3 separate regions of the Homo sapiens genome follow, and all the other regions are linked to region 3. The links come from fine-mapping of genetic effects on gene expression. A gene starts in region 3. Each other region holds a variant in brackets. All regions are shown on one strand. Distances are between the middles of the regions.

What was found. PIP is the estimated chance that this variant, and not a neighbour inherited with it, causes the effect. A credible set is the group of variants that fine-mapping cannot tell apart.
Region 1: its variant is the best candidate, but not a certain one, in a credible set for the expression of MPEG1 in whole blood (TOPMed, PIP 0.57).
Region 2: its variant is the best candidate, but not a certain one, in a credible set for the expression of MPEG1 in whole blood (TOPMed, PIP 0.50).

Annotation. Positions count from the first base shown.
Region 1 is chr11:59,040,029-59,048,067 of GRCh38, reverse strand. All of the region lies in intron 3 of GLYATL1-AS1 (GLYATL1 antisense RNA 1), which reads left to right. It also overlaps the pseudogene GLYATL1P4. Among named protein-coding and RNA genes, the nearest start is that of GLYATL1-AS1, 14 kb to the left of the region's middle. The variant A/G (reference allele first, on the strand shown) is at 4,034.
Region 2 is chr11:59,244,122-59,252,160 of GRCh38, reverse strand. No RefSeq gene overlaps it. Among named protein-coding and RNA genes, the nearest start is that of MPEG1, 35 kb to the right of the region's middle. The variant T/C (reference allele first, on the strand shown) is at 4,190.
Region 3 is chr11:59,209,229-59,217,267 of GRCh38, reverse strand. It overlaps MPEG1 (macrophage expressed 1), which reads left to right and starts at 4,341. Exons shown (of 1, transcript NM_001039396.2): 1 at 4,341-8,039. The coding sequence starts at 4,403. The coding sequence ends at 6,553. It also overlaps the pseudogene RN7SL42P. RefSeq lists an enhancer at 4,165-4,364.

The DNA.
Region 1 (8,039 bases), 170 kb after region 3:
TTTTTTATCCAATGCACCTTTGATGGGGATCTGTGTTGATTCCATGTCTTTGCTATTGTGAACAGTGCAGCAATGAACATCCTAGTGCATGTGTCATTTTGGTAGGATGATTCATTTTCTTTTGGGTATTTACCTAGTAATGGCATTGCTGGGTCTAATGGCAACTCCGTTTTAAGTTCTCTAAGAAATTTCCAGACTACTTTCCACAGTGTAATAATCCTAAGCAAATTAATGCTGTAACAGAAAATCAAATATCACGTTTTCACTCATAACTGGGAGCTAAGCATTGACCATACATGGACATAAATGTGGGAACAATAGACACTATGGACTCTAGAGGGTGGAGGGAAAGGGGCTGGGTTAGAAAACTACCTATCGGGTACTATGCTCACTACCAGGGTGATGGGATCTGTCCGTACTCCAAGACTCAGCATCATGCAATATTTGCATGTAACAAATATGCACATGTACCCCCTTTATCTAAAAGGAAAGTTGAAATTACAAACTAAAAAGTAGCCAAAATTAGATTATTTTACATTTCAATTCTACATAAGACAAAACCAAACACATAATTTTAATTGTATTGTTTGGTAAAAGATGAAAAGATCCTAATGCCAAATCTGGTAAAGAAATAACAAAAAGAGAGTTACTGACCATATTGGCTTATGAATACAGATGCAAAAATTCTGAATAAAATATTCAGTAGCATATGAAAAGAATGTGAACATGAACAGTTTGTTTTAGAAAGGCCAGAATGAGTTTGATCAGAAGATCTTTTAGGGTAATAAATTAAAGGAGGAAAAAATTACATGAGTATATAAATTTCCATAAAAAGACAAAAATGAAATAACATAAAATTTACCGTTCATTCTAAATATAATTTCTATGAAAGTGGGAAAACAGGAAAGTGCTCTAAGCCTGTAAAGACAGAATTAAATGTAATTTTAAAGGTAAGTGTTTATAGCTATTTCATTAGAATCAGGAATGAGACAAGAATAGAACTATTATTATGGTTATTTGATATTGTTTTCTTAGGTTGTACATTATACAATAAGGCAAGAAACTAAAAACCCATACAAATATTGGCAAAGAAGCAGCAAATTACTTTGTTTATAGATTACAGTATTACACATTTAGAAAATATAAGAGACTTCGACAGAAAACAATGTAGTTTACCTCAGGAAAACACTAATATTTTACCAGATGGCATAGAACAGAAACTGAAAAAAGTGAGAGAAAGACCATATTTCTTGATAAAAATATTTAGTATCACAAAAATATTAATGCTTCCACAATTGTCTAAAAAACTCCTCCAATACAAATCACAATTGCAATACTTAGTTGGGGGAATTGGGGAACTGAAAAATTAGTTTTTGTTCATATAGCTCTTAAGTTTATAAGAAATAGGAAATCAAGAAAAACATTAGTGAAGGGTGATTTGCTTTATTAGATATTAATATTTACCACAAAACATTGAAATAGCATGAGAAAAGACTAAAACAAATACAGAAATAGCTACAAAAATATATAAAAATGTTACATGACAAAATAGACATTTATGTTTCAGTAGCAGAGTGACTTATTTAATAAATAGCACTAATGTAATTAGCCAGCCATAAGGTGAATAAATATAAAAGAATGTTAATGCATGCTATTCAAAAATATATTGCAAATAGAATGAAGTTTGAAATGTCAAAAGTAAAAACTCACTGTAAGACAAAATGAAAAAAACAACTTGTATGATCTTGGATTAGGAAAAATCTTCCTAATTATTAACAAAAAAACCCCCAAAGCCTCAGGAATCATAGTGAAAAAGATAATATATTTGATTACATGAAAATTAAAAATTGCTTCATGTGAAAATCTATCAATAAAATAGAAAATAATTCTCAATTGGGCAACAAATTTGTAGCATACACCTTGTGTTAGTATCCCTCATATCCAAAACACATAGAGAATTTTAAGAATGACACAAAATCCCAGTGTAAAAATGGTCAAACAATATAAACAGTTCAGAAGTAAACCCAAAATGACTGATAATCATATGAAAATATATGTTGAATATCACTAGTCAGGGAAATGCAAATTAAATCTACAATAAGATGCCACTTTTCACCCACCAGTTTGGCAGAAATTAGAAGAAGGATAACATTCAGTGCTGGTGAGAATGTGGGAAACAATTCTTCCACAAATTGCTAATGGAAATAATACTGTGGAATCCTTTGGGAAGGTAGTCTGGCAGTGCCTACTTAGGATAAGAGAAGCTCTTACTTGGACGTATCCCTTTTGGAAACCAATTGCATTGAGAAAAGTTTCCAGGATGTAAAGACATGTATACAAGGATGTTTACTGAAGCATTGTTTGTAATGGCAAAGAAGTATGAACAATTTGAACCCAACAGGAGGAGAATGACTGACTAGCATTGCATTGACTCTATGGAACACCACAGTTACTAAAACGAAAACGTTAGTGCTGTATTGATTCACTCAAAGCAATGTCCATATGTCAAAGGCAAATTAAAAAGTGATGACAGTTTGTGTGTTAATATGGGCAAGGACACTGATTACCCCAAAGGGTAGGAATGGAGGAGAGGAGGGCAAAGGAGGTGAGAGGTTATTAACTTCTTAAAATCATATTGGATTTTTCCACTTGTATAATCAGCATATATTATCTTTCTGATTAAAAACCAAGAAAGAAAAAATTAATTTTTTTCTAGAGAAATTCTCCTGCATCTCACCTTAAAAAGGTCTTCTTCAAAATTGCATCGATTTTCAATACTGAAAGAAACGTGGTATACTATGGAATCAGACTAGGTGAATGTATTTCCAAGTAAATTGCAGCATATTTCATTCTTTCCATTTTTTTGGTCATGTATGTGTGGCATGGAACTTTTATATTTTAATATTTTTGTTTACTGACTCACTTTATAAAAACTAGCCTTGTTCAAAGCAATGCATATATGAAGTTACAGCTTGATGGTGCAGTTACATTGTTAAAATACACATAGTAACTACAAAGTTACTGAAGTAAAAAGAACTATTTGACCTCATACAGTTATTTAGCATATCACACTTTGAAGAAATTGGACCATGGATCAAATAAACTAAGCATTAATCTTCCATCTGAAATTGTCAGGAAACCTTGAGATCAAAAGAACATCCCTGGGAAGGTGTTAGGCTCAGCTTATTATTATGTGGGGGCTCAGCGTCTATACCCACCTGAAGCTGGGCTGTCCATGAGGCTTCAGTTCACTAACCAGATGTGCATGAAACAGATACAAAAAGGGGAAGCCTTTAGGGCCAAAAAATAGACCTAGGTTTGTATTACTATTTCAGCTTAATCGTGTATACCTTGTGTTTCCTCGGCCAACAATGGCTAATTATGGTAAATACTATTTAGAATTATGTGCTATGTACTAAGTGTTTGACATATGGTATCTCATTTAAACCTTCTGTGATCCTCTGAAGAGTGTCCTCCAATTTTTCCCATTTTAACAGATGATAAAACTCACAGAAGGGCCTATGGTTATATAGCTAGTAAAAGTGGCAGAGTCCGTTGAACTTGAATTCAGATTGGGGAATGCTTTAACAGTTGGTATCCAGCAGCTACAGGACTTAATATTTCTCAGTGTTGTTTCCTCATCTCTAAATTGAAGATATTAAAGCTCACTTTGTAAAATTGTTCTGATGATGACAGTCACTAATGAGTGAGGTGCTTCCAAACAGTTGACACACAGTAATTGTGTGCCCCTTCCCTGGTTCCTGAGAAGCAACTTTTATTTTTTTATGACAGGGTCTCACTCTGTTGGCCAGGCTAGAGTAGAGTGGTGTGATCTTGGCTCACTGCAGCCTCAACCTTCTGGGGCTCAAGCCATCCTCCCATCTCCATCTCCTGAGCATCTAGGAGTATAGGCATGTACCACCATGCACTGCTAATTTTGTTTATTTTTTTGTAGAGATGAGGTCTCACTATGTTGCACAGGCAGGTCCCAAACTCCTGGCCTCAAGCGATCCTCCTGCCTTGGCCTCCCAAA[A/G]TGCTGGGATTACAGGTAAAAGACACCATGCCTGGCCATGAGAGGTAATTTTGCTGGTAGACTACTGCCTTGGTTTTTGTTTCTAAATCACTGTTCTGATATCTCAGACACACAACTTTCCCTGTAAATTGGCCTCCATTCAGCCCCTGCAGGTGACCCCTGCCACCTCAAAGGGCCCTTAATCTGTGAGTGTCAGCCTTGTCCTTTTCCTCCCCTTCCCCCTTGAACCCCTTTCCCAAATTAGTCTTATGCTTACGGGAAGAGTGTTAACATGTGGCATTCATGCAAGCTGCTCATTAACGAAGGAGTGTTTTAAAATACTCACATTTCCTTTCACCCTATGAAAGCAGCCATGGTGTCTGAATTGGACAGTTCCTCAGGCCCTTTGGACCTGCCTGGCTCCACCAGTCCCTGTCTGTGTGCCTACCTGTTTTTGAGGTCGGATAATAACCATCTGATACCCGGGCCAGGAGTCCACCAACACCTCCATGTTGAAGGGGTTCCCGTGATTGATGTGAAACAGAGAGCCATACACCTGAAGGAGGGATGAAAGGGAATAGGAGAGGTTGAGATCCCCAGAGATGGGGGTCTGTATGTGAAGAGGAAGAGAAAAATGGAAGTCAGGAGACAGCACTGGGACCAAGTTGGTGATAGTGTGATGAGCAGCATCTCCAGGACCATACTGATGGACGTGAAGTCACCAGCAAACAGGCAGAACTCCCAGGGAGGTGTCCTTGTGATACCACAGAGCTACTGTGCAGTAGCTGGGCACTTGACAATGCACTTAGCACTTATATTGTATGGATTCATTCAGTGTCCACAACAACTTTAATAGGTGGCTACTAATATTATTCCCATTTTATTAATGAAAAGACCAAAGATAAAGGCATAGAAAGCTAAAGACACAGGCACAATGATATCTGACTAAAAAATGGCAGCCTTGCAATGCATATTTATTGAATCTGGCCCCAAACCGATGTTCGTAGCCACCATTCTTCACCACCTCTCCAAATGAGTGATAAAATCTGCAGAGTCGGCCTAGTTGCCTGTTGCCGAGGAGAAGCAGCAGCTCTTAACATGCCTCCTTTGTCCCCAACCCCATCCTGTTTCCCAGCTCCAACCCTCTGCACAAAGTCAGGAAGGACGAGATTCTTGGGCCTGTTATTTTCTCATCCTCAACACCCCTACTCCCATACCCCAACCTCCCACTGTTCCTTCACCTTCAGGGACTCAGGAATGCTCCTTGCTAAAGATTTGAATAGGGCCAGCAGCTGCTCAGAATTATTCAATAGAATCATTTTGTGGGATGCTTCAGTCCTCGAGCCCTTCAAGAAAAAACTCTGAAGAGAAGTGAAGGGAAAATGTTAAAGGACCAGATGAAATTAAAATGCACTTTACACATCTCCATTCAAGTAACACTCATGATGTAGGTACTGTTAGTATCGTCTTCATTTTGAATACGCCAAAGCTTAGAGAGACTAAATAAATTTCTCAAGTTCTTACAGGGATAAATGACAGAGTCCTATCCAAAACCCATGCATTTCCTCTCTGGTGGAATGAATTAAAAGTGAATATTAAGAGTTCTGTGAGCCTCCCACATGCCTGTAGCAGAACACTCCACCACCACCATCATAATGTTTCTTTTATTTTGGTCATCAGATGCCTGAAGAGTCTTCTTTCTTCTGGAATAGGAAATATCTAAGAACAGTTGTGACTGGAAACCTCAGAGCAGGAGTTGGCAAAGATTTTCTTTAGTTTCTTAGGGCCAAATATTTCAGATCTATAACCATTTTGAAATTTTTCCCAGTTTCATTACAAAAATAAGAAAAAAGCATAGAAAATTTGGAAACATATCTGTAAATTTCCTTTGAAATAACACTTGGAATTCTTTTTTTTTTTTTTTTTTTTTTTTTTTTTGAGACGGAGTCTCGCTCTGTCGCCCAGGTCGGACTGCGGACTGCAGTGGCGCAATCTCGGCTCACTGCAAGCTCCGCTTCCCGGGTTCACGCCATTCTCCTGCCTCAGCCTCCCGAGTAGCTGGGACTACAGGCGCCCGCCACCGCGCCCGGCTAATTTTTTGTATTTTTAGTAGAGACGGGGTTTCACCTTGTTAGCCAGGATGGTCTCGATCTCCTGACCTCATGATCCACCCGCCTCGGCCTCCCAAAGTGCTGGGATTACAGGCGTGAGCCACCGCGCCCGGCCTAACACTTGGAATTCTTACAAATGTGCCAAAGAGTATAACAGTTGACATTCTATAGTGCCAAACCGGTTCTTAGCCAAAAGGGACTTTACTGAGAGCCCTCATTTTTAAATGTAGTTCAATGCATTGTTTTTCATTTGGAATGTTCCACTCTAAGTTATCTTTAGTAAGATTTTGCCATTTGTGTAAGACTTCTCTGCCTTCCAGTCCTAATGTATAAGCCAGAAAGAACTCAGTTTTTCAGAAATTAAGGATTCCAGTTTTACATAAAATACTGACTTTACTCTCAGGTTCTTTTGATTAACTTAACCAATGAATTTTCCTATCTAGGTACACAAGAAAAATGAAACAAATGGGTAGAACACAAAAATCCCTGTGAATTTCCCAAAGCCGAATTTTATGACTGCTGCGACATTACTGCTTACTACCACTTCCTTTATGACCCAGTCAGCTGTTAGTGGCCTCTACTGTTAGTGGCCTCTAAGTGGATCCAAGCCAGTTAATTCCCAGATCAAATTCATTCCTAGACCCAGTCCATTTTCTGTTGCAACTCCAAAACCAGTTTGGATCACAAATTTGCACAAGGAAACTCAGAGAGCTCAAAACACAAATGTGTGAAGCTCCAAAATGCAAGAGGGAGCTTACCTTTGATCCTCAGCTGCTCTGAGAGATCAGTGGACACAAGTGGATCCCGCAGGTACCTTCTGTGTTTACTCAGTGCTCCTGGGGATACTAGAAGCTCCACTTCAGATTCTGCTTCTGACACAATCTGATAAAATAAAAACTTCAGCTGACTTAAATTTAAAGGAGATTAGTTGAGCAATGAACAATTCATCGATCCAGCAGCCTTCAGAATCACAGCAGATTCACAGAGTTTCCAGGGGTGCCTTGTGGTCAAAACAAATTTATAGGGAAAAAAAGTTAAAGTGACATCCAGGAACCGGAAATGAGTTACAGAAACAGTGAGATTTCTGTCACCTGGGCGTTTGCCTTATTTAAACACAGTTTGAGCATTCAGCAGTCTATGAGTGGTGATGTAAGGCTGCTGGGACTGGCCAGCATTCAAATATTGTTACAGGTGCAGACTCCTAAATTAGGTTTTCAATTTTGTCTATTAAGCTAGGTTACTCTACACCCACAAGGGCTCAAATGAAGCACAGAGTCCTTCTCAGACCATATTTAGTTTGCTTTAACACTCTGTAGCAAAATTCATTGAAAGGATTGTCTACAAATGCTATTTCCAATCCTCCCCCTAATCTTATCTAACTGGGTTTTTGCTGCTACCATTTTACTGAAACATTTTTTAAATCCATCAGTGATCTCTATGTTATTAAATCCAGTGGTCAATTATTGCTTCTGTTCTTAATAGATCATTCTTTAAGACTTTCTTCACTTGGTTTCCGAGAAAACACACTCTCTTCTTTTCCTTTAACTTCACTGGTTATTTCTCAGTCTCCTCTGTGGACCCTTCTTTTCTCCCCAACTTCTTAATTTTGCATCACTTTAGAGTTCAATCATTGGCCTTCATTTGTATCCACACTTACTCCCTAGTAATCACATCTGTTCCCATGGCTTTAAAATCAATCTGCTTGCCAATGACTAATACATTTATATTACTATTAAAACTCTTTTCCAAACTCAAGACATATGTATCCAATAGCCTGTTTGATATCTCTTGGATTCCACCCAATAGCCATCTCAAACTCATTATGTCTCAGATCAAACTCCTTATCCACCCTCTCCACCCAGCCTACTTCACCTGTAGTCTTTCTCAATTAAGTTGATGGCAACTCCACCTTTTCA
Region 2 (8,039 bases), 35 kb before region 3:
AGTTGACACTCCAGCTGGGATTATCTCTACAAATATCTTTTTTTTTTTTTTTTTTTTTTTGAGACGGAGTCTTGCTCTGTCGCCCAGGCCAGACTGCGGACTGCAGTGGCGCAATCTCGGCTCACTGCAAGCTCTCCGCTTCCCGGGTTCACGCCATTCTCCTGCCTCAGCCTCCCGAGTAGCTGGGACTACAGGCGCCCGCCACCGCGCCCGGCTAATTTTTTGTATTTTTAGTAGAGATGGGGTTTCACCTTGTTAGCCAGGATGGTCTCGATCTCCTGACCTCATGATCCACCCGCCTCGGCCTCCCAAAGTGCTGGGATTACAGGCGTGAGCCACCGCGCCCGGCCTATCTCTACAAATATCTTGGCATGAATGTCTGAAAGAGGCTGAATAAATCCACCTCTGCTCTGTTTCCAGAATTCTCTTTATCCAAAGGGTTTGCAACCTCTCAAGTCAGCCCCTTTTATCTTTGGATAAATATAAAAAAAATTTTGACTTTAAGAAAAATTCCTCCTTGAAATAAGCAGGAAGTTATTTCCAAGTAACTTCAACCTATGACTTCTCATCTGCAAAAGGAACGTTAAAATGTCCTCTCTTTCTACTTGACAAGTTGCAGAAAGAGGTGACATTCTGCTTGAAAAGGTGGGTAGAGACAAACAGCCTCAATGTCCTCACTTACCCTGTTCAGGAGGGAGACTATAGGCAGAGAGCCTATCAAAGCTGTGTTGAGCTTATGACCTACAGAACTATGACATAATACAAGTCTGTTGTTTTAAGCTGATAAATTTGTGTTAATCCATTATGCAGCAATAGAAAACTAATAATTCTCAGTGTGCATTTTATTATGCTTCTCTGTAAAGCTACTCCCTCCAAACTTTGCAGCTGATATCCTGATGAAGCTATTATTTTTTAAAAGTTCCTTTTTGGAAAAGTCATCCTATTCAATTCAGAAAACAGTCAGTGGGCATCTTTTTGATGTCAGGCACTGTGCTAAGCTCTGAAATATAAAGATGAATAAGAACTTTAACCCTAAAAGACCTCGAAGAGAAACTACACAAATAGACACGACTATTATCTGAATCAGAAAGTGCTGAGAACCATGAGGGCATAACAAGTACAAGGTATGAGAGTTCAGAAAAGGGAGAAATCATATCCTGTTAAGGGTGTCAAGAAAGGTTGTCTTGAGGTGGCTGTGGGGAAGAGGATAGGAAATCAAAAAGAGGCTCAGAAAAAATTCGAGGAAGCAGTGAATGTCCTTGTGGGAAAAGAGGGCTCATTTGAATAGCTAAGCCCACCAGCAGCCTGACTAAGCTTATGGATATCATGGGAAAAAAACAACATGGTGAGGGATGGTAGTGGGAATCACTGAGGGCTGGGATAATGAGCTTAGGAATTTGGGAGAGCCTGAGAAGCATGAAATCATGAAAACCAAGAATAGATTGGCTGGGAGTTGCAGAGTAGAACAGGCAGTTTTAGTAAAGGGAAATTTTAGAGTTTGAGATTTTGGAATTAAGCAATTTTCTATTATGGTGAGGGCTGGAATGGGGCTGCCAAGTCATATGACTGGGGTGGCATAGAATTTGAAGTTGGTGAGGCATCCCTTCAAGACAATGTACAGCCGGAGCACTAGAGGGACATCAACCTTAACATTGTCTGATGCATCTTTCTCATTGCCACCATACTTAGCACAGCACCATTAAACATAGAGGGCTAAACAAATGTCGACCTGAGAGGCATACAGAAAAATGAAACAATCACAGTGAGATAGTCAATCTAGATTTTTTTCTGCACTATGGAGCTTGAAATTTGGTCTTGAGGAGAGGCAATAAATGGGTAAGAAGGCATTCTTTGACATTACCAGCCAGGTGTAGTTGCTTTTAAATTTATTGAACTCATTGGTGAGCAACTTGAGAAGAGTGATGTCTTGAGACCTCAATCAAAGACATGATGTAGGCAGTGCACAGAAAGAACCTGGTTTTTGTTATTTTTTCTGTCATCCTGCCTCATCTGGCAGAGAAAATTTCAAGACTAATTTTAGATTTTCAGGAATAATTAATGATTCAGTAAAATAAACGGATACATCATGACCTATATCTTTGCCCCTCTTCCCTTCCCCAAACCATCAACATCCACGTAGACTGAGATGTCCTCACTTGTATGGCTTTTTATGGCATCCCATAGAATAGGTCTTTCTCACCATCTGGGAAGCAACTGGGCAGCCCTCTCCAGTGAACATTCACCAACCTAACTGACCGCCTCCAGCCACAACTGCCTCTCTTCCTTGAGATCGAGCCCTGCCAACAAAATGCCACTTTCAAGATCAAGCAAGTTCAGGGTAATTATACTTTTCCCAAGTCACATCAGCTCTGGATAATTTTCAGAGCTATTTCCAGGTCTATTTTAAGGGATAACTCGATGTCGCAATGCGTGAGAGTCAATTGGATACATGATTCCCAATGACTCCATGCTTGCCGTGTTCCTGGTCTCAGAAAGCTTTTCAAAGAAAAGCTCAGGGTGGGCTCTCTCAGCAGGGGATACCATATTATTATGGCTTCCCAGAAGAGGGCCTACCCCCGCCATCACTCCAAGCAGGATCAAAGAATCAGAGTCTCTTCAAAGAACAGACAGCAAGCACTATGGGTGGAAGGCCACAGATGCCCTACAGATGTGGTTGGGCAACTATTTTCTAGGTTTTACCAGGTTGGTTTATAAGTCTATCTGAAGACTGAGAACAGATTTCGGAGAACATCTTCTCCTATTTATTCTGGTTACAGCAAAATAAATAAATGAATGTTTATGTTACTTTCAATGAGCTAAAATAGTTATTTACAAAGACAGACAAGACCTGCTTTAAGCAAAAGTATAAAATTCTACAACTTTGTCCTCTGTGCCACCACCTCCCTCTTTAAGCCTCTCTCATCCTGATTCTGGGTTCTTTGTTCTTTCCATTACCACTTGCCTGCATTCTCATGCAGCTATCTTTTCCTGTGACTGTAGGCACTAGTTAAATTCTGGCCCTACCAATGACTGGCTGTGATCCAGTGAGCAGCCAAGGCAGAAAACCACTGCCTCAGAGTATCCCTCTCTGAAAAGCACTGAAGCCTTTGCAGCAGTCTTGAAACCTGTTCGAGTTTCCTCAATCTTGAGGATTCCTTCGTTTGACATTGCCAGCTGTTGTACCTACTCTTCCATTTTCTTCTCTCCTTCCACTGCTAAACTGGCATAACTTCCGTCAGTACCTGGCCTTGTTCAAATCCCCTCTGAGCTCCATTCCGGATATCCCTATCTGAGACCAATGAGTTCCACCCCTACCATTCTGTTGAAATTGCTCTGGGAAGACCACACCTCCCTTCCTTCTTGCCAAATCAATGGCCTTCTGTTTATATTTTCTCTCTTTGAGTTCCATGCCATGTTCATTAAGCATCACTGAGCAGTGACAGATTTGAGGATCAGGATAAGGAATTTGGATGTCATCAGGCCATCAGTGAACAAAAAAACTAATGAACGCTCTTGAGCAAAAAATGACATGATTGGATCTGTGCTTTAAGGAGGTCCATTTGCAGGTTAAGGAGGAAGAATTGAATTTGAGAGAGTCTGAAGGCGAATTATGAACAATCAGTTTAAAATTGCCTGAGTCCCCCCACAAAAAAATTCTTGGAGTTGGAGATGACATGAAAAGAGGGTTCTATTGATTCTACCGATAATGTTTCAAGTAGTATTAAAGAACAATCCATTCTGAAGGTGGGAGCAAGGGAGGCAGGAATTGTAAAGCACCATAGTCTTCTAGTTTACTATCCTCACACCCTTCAGTATGCAATAAGATATATAAAAAAAAAAAAGAGGATTCTTTAGGTTTAGGGTTTTTTTTTCCCTAAAAAAAGATTTAATTACAAACTACTGAATTGGCCATAGTAATCATTTCTCCAATATCTAGCCTCAGAGAGAGACCCCAAGAATGTAGGCATGATGCCCAGAGCTGGGAACTCGAGGAGGGAGTATAATTTGTTTAGCTTCACAGTAGGAGACTCTGGCCCTGGCAGAGGAGAAGCTGATGGGGTTTTGGGTGGAGAAGGGAAATTGTAACATTTTTCTCATCTGGATGCAAGTTGAAGAGCTGCCAACATCAACAGGGTGTGGCCACCATCTTTCACAAATCCTTGAAAGAAGCTGTGGTGTGCTGTGGGTT[T/C]ACACAATGCCCACTTCCTTCTGTTTCTTGTATGTCCTCCCCAAGACACACAAATAGACTTCAAGTATTTTCAAGATGGATATTTGATAAATCAAAAACAAAACACGTACATGAGGGAAATCTGGCCTTAGTCAAACAGCAAGAGGTTATTTTTCTTTTAAACTCCCTGCCCACTGATCTTTTGAAAGATAAGTGTTATCAGGTGATTTTTTAAAAAAATTGCCATCCATTTCTCAGGTCCTTATAGGGGCAGTGGTGTATGGAGGAATGAGGATATTATGAAATAAAGTGTTACAAGAGGCCCTATGCACACAATAAAAAATGTTAGTACATGTCAATCTCCTTTCTTCTTTCTTTTTGTTTCACAGAATCAGAATCTCAGGATTTTAAGGAACCCATAAGGTTAACTAATTCAGATTGTCTTTTAAATCTTAAATCCTGTCACTGTCAAGTGTACCATCTTCTGCTTACACACGTCCAGTGATGAGAAATTTAAAGCTTTCTGGGCTATCCATTCTACTTTTGAACTATACTATTGTTTTCCTAAAATTCTCTCTCTCTCTCTCTCTGTCTATCTTTGTCAGAAGGGTTCTGTAAAATATCTAGTGCTTTACAAAGGTAACTGCTATTGTCTGAAATTGTCACATATTTTGGAGCCAAAAACCAGTCTCAGATTGCATTGACTCCAGGGATATATTATTGGAACCACACCAGGAACTAGGAATAACATGGAAGCTGAGCCAATGGAAATCAACTGTACCCAAACAAAGCTGGCATTTTCTTTATCCCTGAGCACAGGTAGCTACCCAAGATGCCCAGAGGTGCTCTCTGGGACATGCTGTACCCCACAACCTAAACAGAACCAGTGGTAACTGGGAGAGAACTGGCGTCTCTTTCAACCCCCACCAAGTCCTTCTCTTGGAGTTGGTAGCCAATTTAACATAGCTGCATCCAAATACTTTTTATCTCTTTGTCCAAAACATGTACTATGGGTGCTGGCAGAGATGGGTTTCATTCTTTTTCCAAGCATCTGATCTTAGCCATCTAACTGAAATGTAGAGCGTAAGGAGCTGTAAATGAGTCTGCCCCTTTTCTTTCCTTGGAATCATTACTGCTGAATCATAGAGTCACAGAATGGGAGAGTGAGAAACACTCATGAAGGTGGGGAAGTTGGAGCAGGCAAGATGCTGGGACCTTCTCTCCTACTCCTCTGACTTTGACCAGAAAGCTGGACTTTATCTATTTAATATTCTGAAATTCTGCAGAAAAAAATTTGTTTTTGCATTTCTTCTATTTACAAACGGAAGTAAGGAATAAAGGAATGTGGACTAGAAAATACTGATCTAACCTAATACTTTTATTGTCCATACAAGAGATGAGGAGATTAAGATTCAGAGAAGGAAATAATTTTTCCAACAGTCACATTACAAAGAAGCAGGAGAAATAGAACTTGAACAAGCATTTTTTTTTTCATTTAACTTTCAGGCTAGTTTTTTTTTTTTATTCTAGAGTCATGGGTATATGCAAGTGTGTATCTGCAATTTTTGAAAAACCATCTAGTTTACTTGGGGTCTTCTTTAGCTACCTTTGAGACTCTAGGTTTTAGAATAAGGTAAAGCAGAAAGAGCTTCTCTTGAAGATATAAAATATAGATGCTACTTTTTATATCTGGTACCAATAAATGGTACAGATCTTTACTTCATGTCTTTTTGCTTTAGTTTTATTACCTATGATGGGAAAGGCTAGGCTTGCTGGTTTCTAGCTCTGATATTACATTATTTTAGTGTTTTAGATCTATCCCAGAATTTTCTGGACGTCTATGCAATATTTAAAATAAGGAAGGCCCAGTGGTTTTAGGATTAGGACAAGTTTACAGTATCTACATAGTAATGATTTGATAACCCTTTATTTAAGCAGTGAACAAACTATTCATTGGACACACGTAATGTGCTAGGCACTGTAACAGAGGAGGGGACAGAAATGATCAAGGTAGACAGCACATTTCTTTTCCTCATGTCAGTCTTTCTATATTTTCTTCATCATACCCTAGAAAATCATCTGAACCATAAATGCCCACCACACTTCAAATATAGTGTTCATCTGGGAATTACCGCATTAGAACTTCATTCCTCTTTATCTTGCTATGCGGCTCAACCCTGCTAAAATGTAAATAGCCCTGCTGAGGTTGAGGACAAGAGAACTCTCCACAATCATTTTTGGAATTCAGATTCCACAGAACCAGCCTTGTCTAGTCACTTGGAATGGGAGAAAGATCATATATATTGCAGGTATATCTTTTCTTTTCTTTTTTTTTGAGATGAAGTCTCACTGTGTCTCCCAGGCTGGAGTGCAGTGGCACAATCTCGGCTCACTGCAACCTCCCCCTCCTGAGTTCAAGAGATTCTCCTGCCTCAGCCTCCTGAGTAGCTGGGATTACAGTGCCCAACACCACACCTGATTAATTTTTACATATTCTTTTAGTAGAGATGGGGTTTCACCATGTTGGCCAGGCTGGTCTCAAATTCCTGACCTCAAGCGATCTGCACTCCTCAGCCTCCCAAAATGCTGGGATTACAGGCATCAGCCACCATGCTCGGCCATTGCAGTTATATCAATAACATAGTCCTATTGTAACCAGTGGAGGGTGTCCAGGTTCTTAGCATTTTGAACAAAGAATTAGACAAAATGCATAAACAAAGCAATAAAAGAAAATTACAGATTGTTGAAATGAAAGTACACTCCACAGAGTGGGAGCTGGTTAAAGTAAGTGGCTCAAGAGCGATGGTTACAGAATTTTCTGGGATTTAAATACCCTCTAGAGGTTTCCCATTGGTTACTTGGTTTATACCCTATGTAAGTGAAGAGGATGAAGTGAAATTACAAAGTTATTGATTTGGTGTATACCCTATGCAAAAGAAGAGGATGTTTCCTGACATAGCTGAAGTCAAGTTACAAAGTTATTGACTTGGATATAGAAAGTTGGGGTTTCTATTTGATTTAGTTCTAGGAAGTCCTTAGATTCCCTGACTCCAGACCCTATTCTCCTGCCTCATTTCCCCCCTGAGAGACATGATCCCCATAAACCTTTATGGGAGGCAGAGGAACCAAGGGTCTTTCTTCTGTAACTGCTTCATGCTGACTTCGGGAGCAGTCCCTACATATTGGGGATCACAGTACTCTCATCCTGCTCTGTCTGGTGGGGACAGGGTAGCTTCTTGATGGCTGGTGGTGTCTTCACCTGGAACTGTGTGGAAACCTTCTCACATGATCATCTAAAGCTTAATGGTCTCTAGGCGAGAGGAAAAGAATTTGCTTAAAATATTTAACAAACGGCCGGGCGCGATGGCTTATGTCTGTAATCCCAGCACTTTGGGAGGCCGAGGCGGGCAGATCACGAGGTCAGGAGATCAAGACCATCCTGGCTAACATGGTGAAACCCCGTCTCTACTAAAAATACAATAAATTGGCCAGGCGTGGTGGCAGGTGCCTGTAGTCCCAGCTACTCGGGAGGCTGAGGCAGGAGAATGGCATGAACCCAGGAGGCAGTTAGAAGATCTAGTCTCCTTCTATTTTGCAAAGCAATCACTGCCAAGGGGTTTATTTGTTTTCATAATGTTACAATACTCTGGGCAATGTCATTCAAGCTTTCCATAAAACCCTTGGACAACCATTGGTAGTAGGATAGGGAAGTTGCAATCCCGCTAACTTCCAATCCTACTCCTGCTGTTATTAGTAGCCCTACAAAAAGGGGTATGAGTTGGATGGCTCATTTGTATCTGGTGGTTGCAGTTAAAGGTATAATAAGGAGTTGGTTGTTGGGAGCTATATTAATTTTGAGACATATAATAGT
Region 3 (8,039 bases):
GATCTACTTAGTAATTATTTAACCATCAGTTTTCACACTGGTTTCCTAGATTCCTGCTGAAAGGGAATTGTCCCAGCAAATGCAACTAGACTTTCCTCCCCATTTTAGACCACAGGTGAAATGCAGAAGTAGGAAACACCTGGATTAGTTCCAAGCCCACACAGAAGCGAACCTCAGATATGAATCACGGTTTGGCGCTGAATGAGATGGTGTCAGAAGGTTGCACGGGATCAAACAGAGAAAGAAAGCAGATGTGGGACTTCCTTCTTGCCTCTTTTTGGAGGAAGTGAAATCGCCGTTCAGCAACGCAGATGCAAAGTTTTTGTAGACAAGATGCCTCTTTCTTTTAGAGATCAGTGTTAGCCACAGGCCATTACTCCTCAAGTGTGGCCATCTGGGGAGGTTATGTGACTGCATATGCATTCCAGTACAAGAAAAAGCAAAGGAAATTTCTGGTGAACAGAATAAAACAGAAAAGTTGTGGGTAAAATGCACTGGTCACCACTTCCTCATATGTGACTGTTATGAGCAGTTCTTCTGCTCCTGGTATGTAAAATTAAGTTAAGCCAAATTTCCCATCATTTGCACTTCTCCTTTCACTGTTTCCCAGAGAACTGGAAAGAGAACTTCCTTGAGCACAGCAGTCACATAATCCATAGGCTTTGGGTCATTTCAGGAATATAAAAATTCCAGAACTAAGTTTTTTTGTTTGTTTGTTTGTTTGTGTTTTTGACAGTCTCACTCTGTCTCGCAGGCTGGAGTGCAGTGGCACGATCTCGGCTCACTGCAGCCTCGAACTCTTGGGTTCAAGCAATTCTCCTGCCTCAGCCTCCCAAGTAGCTGGGATTACAGTTGTGTGTCACCACTACATCTGGCTAATTTTTTTGTATTTTTAGTAGAGATGTGGTTTCTCCATGTTGGCCAGGCTGGTCTTGAACTCCCGGCCTCAAGTGATCCATCCACCTCGGATTCCCAAAGTGCTGGGATTACAGGCATGAGCCACCCTGCCTGGCCTGTTTCTTTTGTTTTTTTTTTACATGGTTGTGCATTGGTTATTTTCCTGAGCACAAAAGTGATGATTACCCAATACCCATCAGTGTTTGGTACTTAATAGGCTCTGAATACAAATTTCTCGAGTTAATAAATACATGCTCATTGTTGAAAACTCAAAAAACACAGAAAAGAGGAAAAAATTAAAATAATTTAGAAAAACCTCTCAACCAGATGTAATTACTGTCTATGCATTGGCGTACATCCCTCTAGTTATGTACATAGTTGGGGTCATGCTGAATGTTTATCATTCTTTTTTTTCATAACATTATTGTCAGAGATATTTGAACCAGAATAACTCCATCTCGAATAGGGGCTGGGTAAAAGAAGGCTGGGCTGCATTCCCAGAGGGTTAAGTATTCTAAGTCATGGGATGAGATAGAAGATTGGCATAAGATACAGATACAGATCACAAAGATCTTTCTGATAAAAGAGCATGCAGTAAAGAAGGCAGCCAAAACCCACCAAAACTAAGATGGCGACAAGAGTGAACTCTGGTCATCCTCATTGTTCATTATACACTAATTGTAGTGCATTCGCATGCTAAAAGATGTTTCCACCAGTGCCATGACTGCCAATTTCCAGAAGTTACCCTGTATAGTCTAAAAAGGAGAGGAACCCTTAGTTCTGGGAATTGCCCACCTCTTTCCCAGAAAACTCATGATTAATCCACCCCTTGTTTAGCATATAATTAAGAAATAATGATAAGTATCCTTAATCAAGCAGCACATACTTCTGCTCTGCCTATGGAGTAGCCATTCTTTTGTTTCTTTACTTCTCTAATAAACTTACTTTCACCTTACTCTGTGGACTTGCCCTGGTCCTTCTTGCACAAAGTCCAAGAACTCTCTCTTGAGGTCTGCATTGGGAACCCTTTCCAGTAACATTATGGCATAAGAATTTCTCATGTTATTAAAATAGTTTTAAATAATTGTGATGGCTATACAATATTTTGTCTTATGGGTACAATGTAATTTTACCGTTGTTGGCTCTTTCTGCTATTTTCAATTTTTTTTTCCTATGATAAAATGAAGACAAAGTCTATAGAATAAAAAATACAGTGACTAGACGTCTGGAGACATAGGAACACCTGAATATAGAATTGTCTGTATTAACCTTGCTTGTATTCTCATTTCAGGAGAGTGAGCTCTCAACAGGGTCTACTAAAGAGAAAGCAGAGGGTAACAAATTGTCAGCTTGTCTCCAAAGCAGTGTGAGAGTATTCTAATTTTGATGAACCATCCCAGAAATAGTTTGAAGAGAAGTATGTAGGTATTTCAACAGACTTATTGGAAGTACTCAAGGGCATTCAACTCTCATTTTTCTAATTCTGGGATCATGCTGCTGAGGTATAAATTTATGGCTAACTGATTTATAAATTAACTAGAACATCCTGTGCAAAGATTTGGTTCTTTAGCCAAATACAGACTAGGCACTGGTTCATAAATTAATCCCTCTTAGGTGGCTGGTGTCACTTCCCAGAAGCATGATAACTGTGGCACAAATAGAACCAGAATGGCCAGGTGTGGTGGTGCATGACTGCAGTCCCAGATTCCTGGGAAGCTGATGTGGGAGGATTGCTTGAATCCATGAGTTCTGGGCTGTAGTGTGCTATGCCAGTTGGGTGTCTGCACTAAGCTCAGCATCAATATGGTGGCCTCCTTGGAGCAAATCACCAGGTTGCCTAAGGAGGGCTAAACGGGTCCAGGTTGGAAATGGAGCAGGTCAAAACTCCTATGCTGATTAGTAGTGGGACCATGCCTGTGAATAGCTACTGCACTCAAGCCTGGGCAATAAGCAAGACCCTGTCTTGGAAAAAAAAATATACCCGGAATGCAGTATTTCTAGATTTATAGAACACCATCATGGTTTTGATAATAACTGGTGAAGCCCAGCCTGGGAAGCAAGATAACTAGCCTCATTCTTTCTAAAAACACTTCTTTGCTGCATTAATAACCAACAGAGGAATTCAACTCCTTGGAACCTTCCTTCCAGGATGCATACAGGTGATGGTGTAGTGATACCTGTGAATTGCAACATGACTTTTTCAGTCTCAGTACTGTATCTAGTTCATGGTATAATCTTGGGAATGTTAAGGATGCAACTGGGAGCTTCACTAAGTCCTCTGGATTCCCTGGCTACCACTAAGCATACTAAGACATAGCCTAATTGTCCCAAAGAATTAACAGAGTTGGGTTTCAATCAAACCTGTCACCATTGTTTTAAATTATGGGCTCTAATAGAGCTGGCATTGGAACTTGAAAAGAAACTCATGTAATTATATTCTTCTAATGATATAGCAAATGAATTTTTGCTTTTAGAAAAAATATTGGGTAGTGAAGAGCCACATTCTTTTTTATCCACCTAAACTGATTACACACACTTAGCAATGGAACAAAAAATTAAAGGTATAACAGGTACCAACTTCATACAAAATGCACACACACAGAGGATATATAAATGTGTGTACACATACACATATGTTCCTTGGCCCCTGTCTGCTGTTGATAAATCAAAATCTAGATAATAGTGTGGTTTTGTCTTGAACATTTCTATCTGAATGAAAACAACACAGTGTAGGAGTTCCTTGCCCTCGCTTTGAATGCTTAGGACAATGCAAATTGGGGTTTCCCAGCATATTGCAACCGAATCCTCTTCAGGCCCTGTCAGCTGTGCTCCAGACAATGCCATCCCCAAAGACAGAATTGCTATGGTTCATAACAGTGAAACCCACAGGACAAGTGTCCAAGAGTTTCACTCCTTTCTTTTGTGGAAACAGCCTCCACCCTCAGGCAAAGAGGAAACCCAGGGTTGGCCTTGACTAACAGCTTGCATAGGTATGGTGGAGCCAGGGTGTTTCAGTAAGGGTGGTGTGGTCATTTGCCTCTGCATTTATAGTAAAAGAAAACTGATAATGGAGTCCCAAGAGACAGCAGTCAGGGAAAATATGAAACATCAAGTCCAAGAGAATGAGCAAAAAGCAAAGCCAAACTTTCTGGTGGAGGAAGCAGTAGGGTGTGGGGTCGGGATTTTTTTCTAAGTGCACACCCCTGCAGCAGAGTAACCAGCCAGAGCTGGGGGAAAAATTAGGATAGCTACCTGTTAGGCATGTAGGGGTGTGTTTGCATGTTTAGTACGGCATAAATTCTTCAAAGACCTGATGGTCTTTAATATTCCAACCAACTCTCGTTTCCCCATTTTGTCATTAAATTAGCTTAAAGAGGAACTTGTAGCTTTTAGAGAACTCATGAGTTTTCCGCTTCATCATCTGCTTCTGTTTTCTCCATCTTAGTTTGCCCAAAGCTTGCTGGCCGCTGTGTAGGGCTGGTGAGTGGCTGGGGCTGTCTGAGCCATGAACAACTTCAGGGCCACCATCCTCTTCTGGGCAGCGGCAGCATGGGCTAAATCAGGCAAGCCTTCGGGAGAGATGGACGAAGTTGGAGTTCAAAAATGCAAGAATGCCTTGAAACTACCTGTCCTGGAAGTCCTACCTGGAGGGGGCTGGGACAATCTGCGGAATGTGGACATGGGACGAGTTATGGAATTGACTTACTCCAACTGCAGGACAACAGAGGATGGACAGTATATCATCCCTGATGAAATCTTCACCATTCCCCAGAAACAGAGCAACCTGGAGATGAACTCAGAAATCCTGGAATCCTGGGCAAATTACCAGAGTAGCACCTCCTACTCCATCAACACAGAACTCTCTCTTTTTTCCAAAGTCAATGGCAAGTTTTCCACTGAGTTCCAGAGGATGAAGACCCTCCAAGTGAAGGACCAAGCTATAACTACCCGAGTTCAGGTAAGAAACCTCGTCTACACAGTCAAAATCAACCCAACTTTAGAGCTAAGCTCAGGTTTTAGGAAGGAACTCCTTGACATCTCTGACCGTCTAGAGAACAACCAGACGAGGATGGCCACCTACCTGGCAGAACTCCTGGTGCTCAACTATGGCACCCACGTCACCACCAGTGTCGACGCTGGGGCTGCTCTTATTCAGGAGGACCACCTCAGGGCCTCCTTCCTCCAAGACAGCCAGAGCAGTCGTAGTGCCGTGACCGCCTCTGCTGGACTTGCCTTTCAAAACACCGTGAACTTCAAATTTGAGGAAAACTATACCTCGCAGAATGTCCTCACCAAGAGCTACCTCTCAAACCGAACCAACTCCAGGGTGCAGAGCATTGGAGGGGTTCCTTTTTACCCAGGCATCACCCTCCAGGCCTGGCAGCAGGGTATCACCAACCACCTGGTGGCCATCGACCGCTCTGGCCTGCCGCTGCATTTCTTCATCAACCCCAACATGCTACCTGACTTGCCAGGCCCCCTGGTGAAGAAGGTGTCAAAGACAGTGGAAACTGCTGTGAAGCGCTATTATACATTCAACACCTACCCTGGCTGCACAGATCTCAATTCTCCCAACTTCAATTTTCAGGCCAACACGGATGATGGCTCCTGCGAGGGGAAAATGACCAACTTCTCTTTCGGTGGGGTTTATCAGGAATGCACTCAGCTCTCAGGGAATAGGGATGTCCTCCTCTGCCAAAAGTTGGAGCAGAAGAATCCACTCACTGGTGATTTCTCCTGCCCCTCTGGCTACTCCCCGGTGCACCTGTTATCCCAGATCCACGAGGAGGGTTACAACCACCTGGAGTGTCATCGAAAGTGCACTCTCCTCGTCTTCTGCAAGACCGTGTGTGAAGATGTGTTCCAGGTGGCAAAAGCTGAATTTAGGGCTTTTTGGTGTGTGGCCAGCAGCCAAGTACCTGAAAACTCAGGACTGCTTTTTGGGGGCCTCTTCAGCAGCAAGAGCATAAACCCCATGACAAATGCACAGTCATGCCCAGCCGGCTACTTTCCACTGAGACTCTTTGAAAACCTCAAGGTATGTGTTTCTCAGGACTATGAGTTGGGAAGCAGGTTTGCGGTCCCCTTTGGCGGGTTCTTTAGCTGCACAGTTGGGAACCCCCTGGTAGATCCTGCTATATCCAGAGATTTAGGGGCACCGTCTCTGAAAAAGTGCCCCGGGGGCTTCAGCCAGCACCCAGCCCTCATCAGCGATGGATGCCAAGTGTCCTATTGCGTCAAATCCGGGCTCTTCACAGGAGGGTCCCTGCCCCCTGCCAGGCTCCCACCTTTCACCCGGCCACCCCTCATGAGTCAGGCTGCCACCAATACTGTCATAGTGACCAATTCTGAGAATGCGAGATCCTGGATTAAAGACTCCCAGACCCACCAGTGGAGGCTGGGAGAACCGATAGAGCTGCGGAGGGCCATGAATGTCATCCATGGGGATGGTGGTGGTCTGTCAGGAGGGGCTGCAGCTGGGGTCACAGTGGGGGTCACCACCATTCTGGCTGTTGTTATCACCTTGGCCATCTACGGCACCCGGAAGTTCAAGAAGAAAGCATATCAGGCAATTGAGGAAAGGCAGAGTTTGGTTCCAGGCACTGCAGCAACTGGAGACACCACTTACCAAGAGCAGGGGCAGAGTCCAGCTTAAATCTCTCCCCGAAAATGGTTTCTCTCATCTCCAGTGTGGTCATTGCTGACCACTCTGTTTTCCTAAGCATTGAAATGGCAAGTGCAACCAAAAGTAGGTATATTCGTGACTTCTTGTTTAGGTCTCTGGGCCAGGAAATTCATACTGTTACATGGATAAGGTTGGGATTGGGGAGAGGGAACAGTTGGGACTAGAAGCAAAAGTGATTCTGGGACTAAAATAGGAAGCAGATGTCCTTTCCCAATGTGTGTTGCTGTCTTCACCTGAATGCATTTGTGTAAAAATAGCGGAGGGACAATGTGAACATTTGTATTTGGAAGCTATGAATTTACTCTGAAGTTTGCAGTTGTTTCCAATTTGTGAGCTCTAAGAGTTTCTGCCTGTAAGAACTACTCTCCTTTTATTTTGATTTTTAAAAACCTGTCTGAATTTCACACTCTTAGAGCCTGGAAGAGCCCTGAAAAGACACAAGTCTTGCCTGGCTACTGCTTTTTAACTTTGAGGGCTCTATGTTGACAGACTGTTATCTCCTCTGGGTGACCTCAAACATCTGAAAAGAAAGATGTTGCCTGTGCCAATTCCACTTTTTCCAGCTGCCCCTTGATGAACACTCCCTTATACCAGACCACTCTTGGACTTCTGACTGGTGTCATCAAGTCCTCAGAAAATATTTTAAGTTATTTTAAGTTATTAAGGAAGGGATGATTTGGAGACAAGGAGTAATGAAAGATGGGTAAAAACTGGAAAAGATTCTGGTGCTAAGTACTACCCCTTCATCTTCCATGGATGGTCATTACCTTTCCTGTCCTCCTGTTATATGAACACACACACACACACACACACACACACACACACACACGCACACACATACCACATTTCAATAAGTCTTCATTGTTCTGGGTCCTTACCTTTCCTGTCCTCCTGTTATATGAACACACACACACACACACACACACACACACACGCACACCACATTTCAATGTCTGCATGGTTCTGGGGGTAACAAAGGCAAGAAGTTAAAGTAAGACCACATTTGAGTATTACTTACTCTGTAGAATCAAAACAGAGTAGTTAACACCAATTATGCAAACTACTTTTTTTTCCAGCAGAAAGGGAGCTGACATGATCAAATCCATGTTTTCAAATGAACTGAAAAAGGCATCCAGCACCACTTATAACACATTTATTTCAGTTCCAGGCTGACAGCCCTGGGGCATCTAGCAGGATGCATAATTGTCATCTGGTGAGAGTTGGGACTTTGCTCAATTTTAATACCAATCTCTCCTGATTGTAATTACCTCCACTACTTTCATGATCCCCCTACAATATTTTTTTAAATGATATATTTATTCACTGAATCAAATGTCATTAATGAGTTATCTTCTGTGGAGGATGACTGTTCTCTTTGTTAATGTTCACAATCAAGATCTTGGGCTGAGAAGAGGCCCTTCACCCAAGGAGTTTGAAGTATCACAGTGTGTGGGAA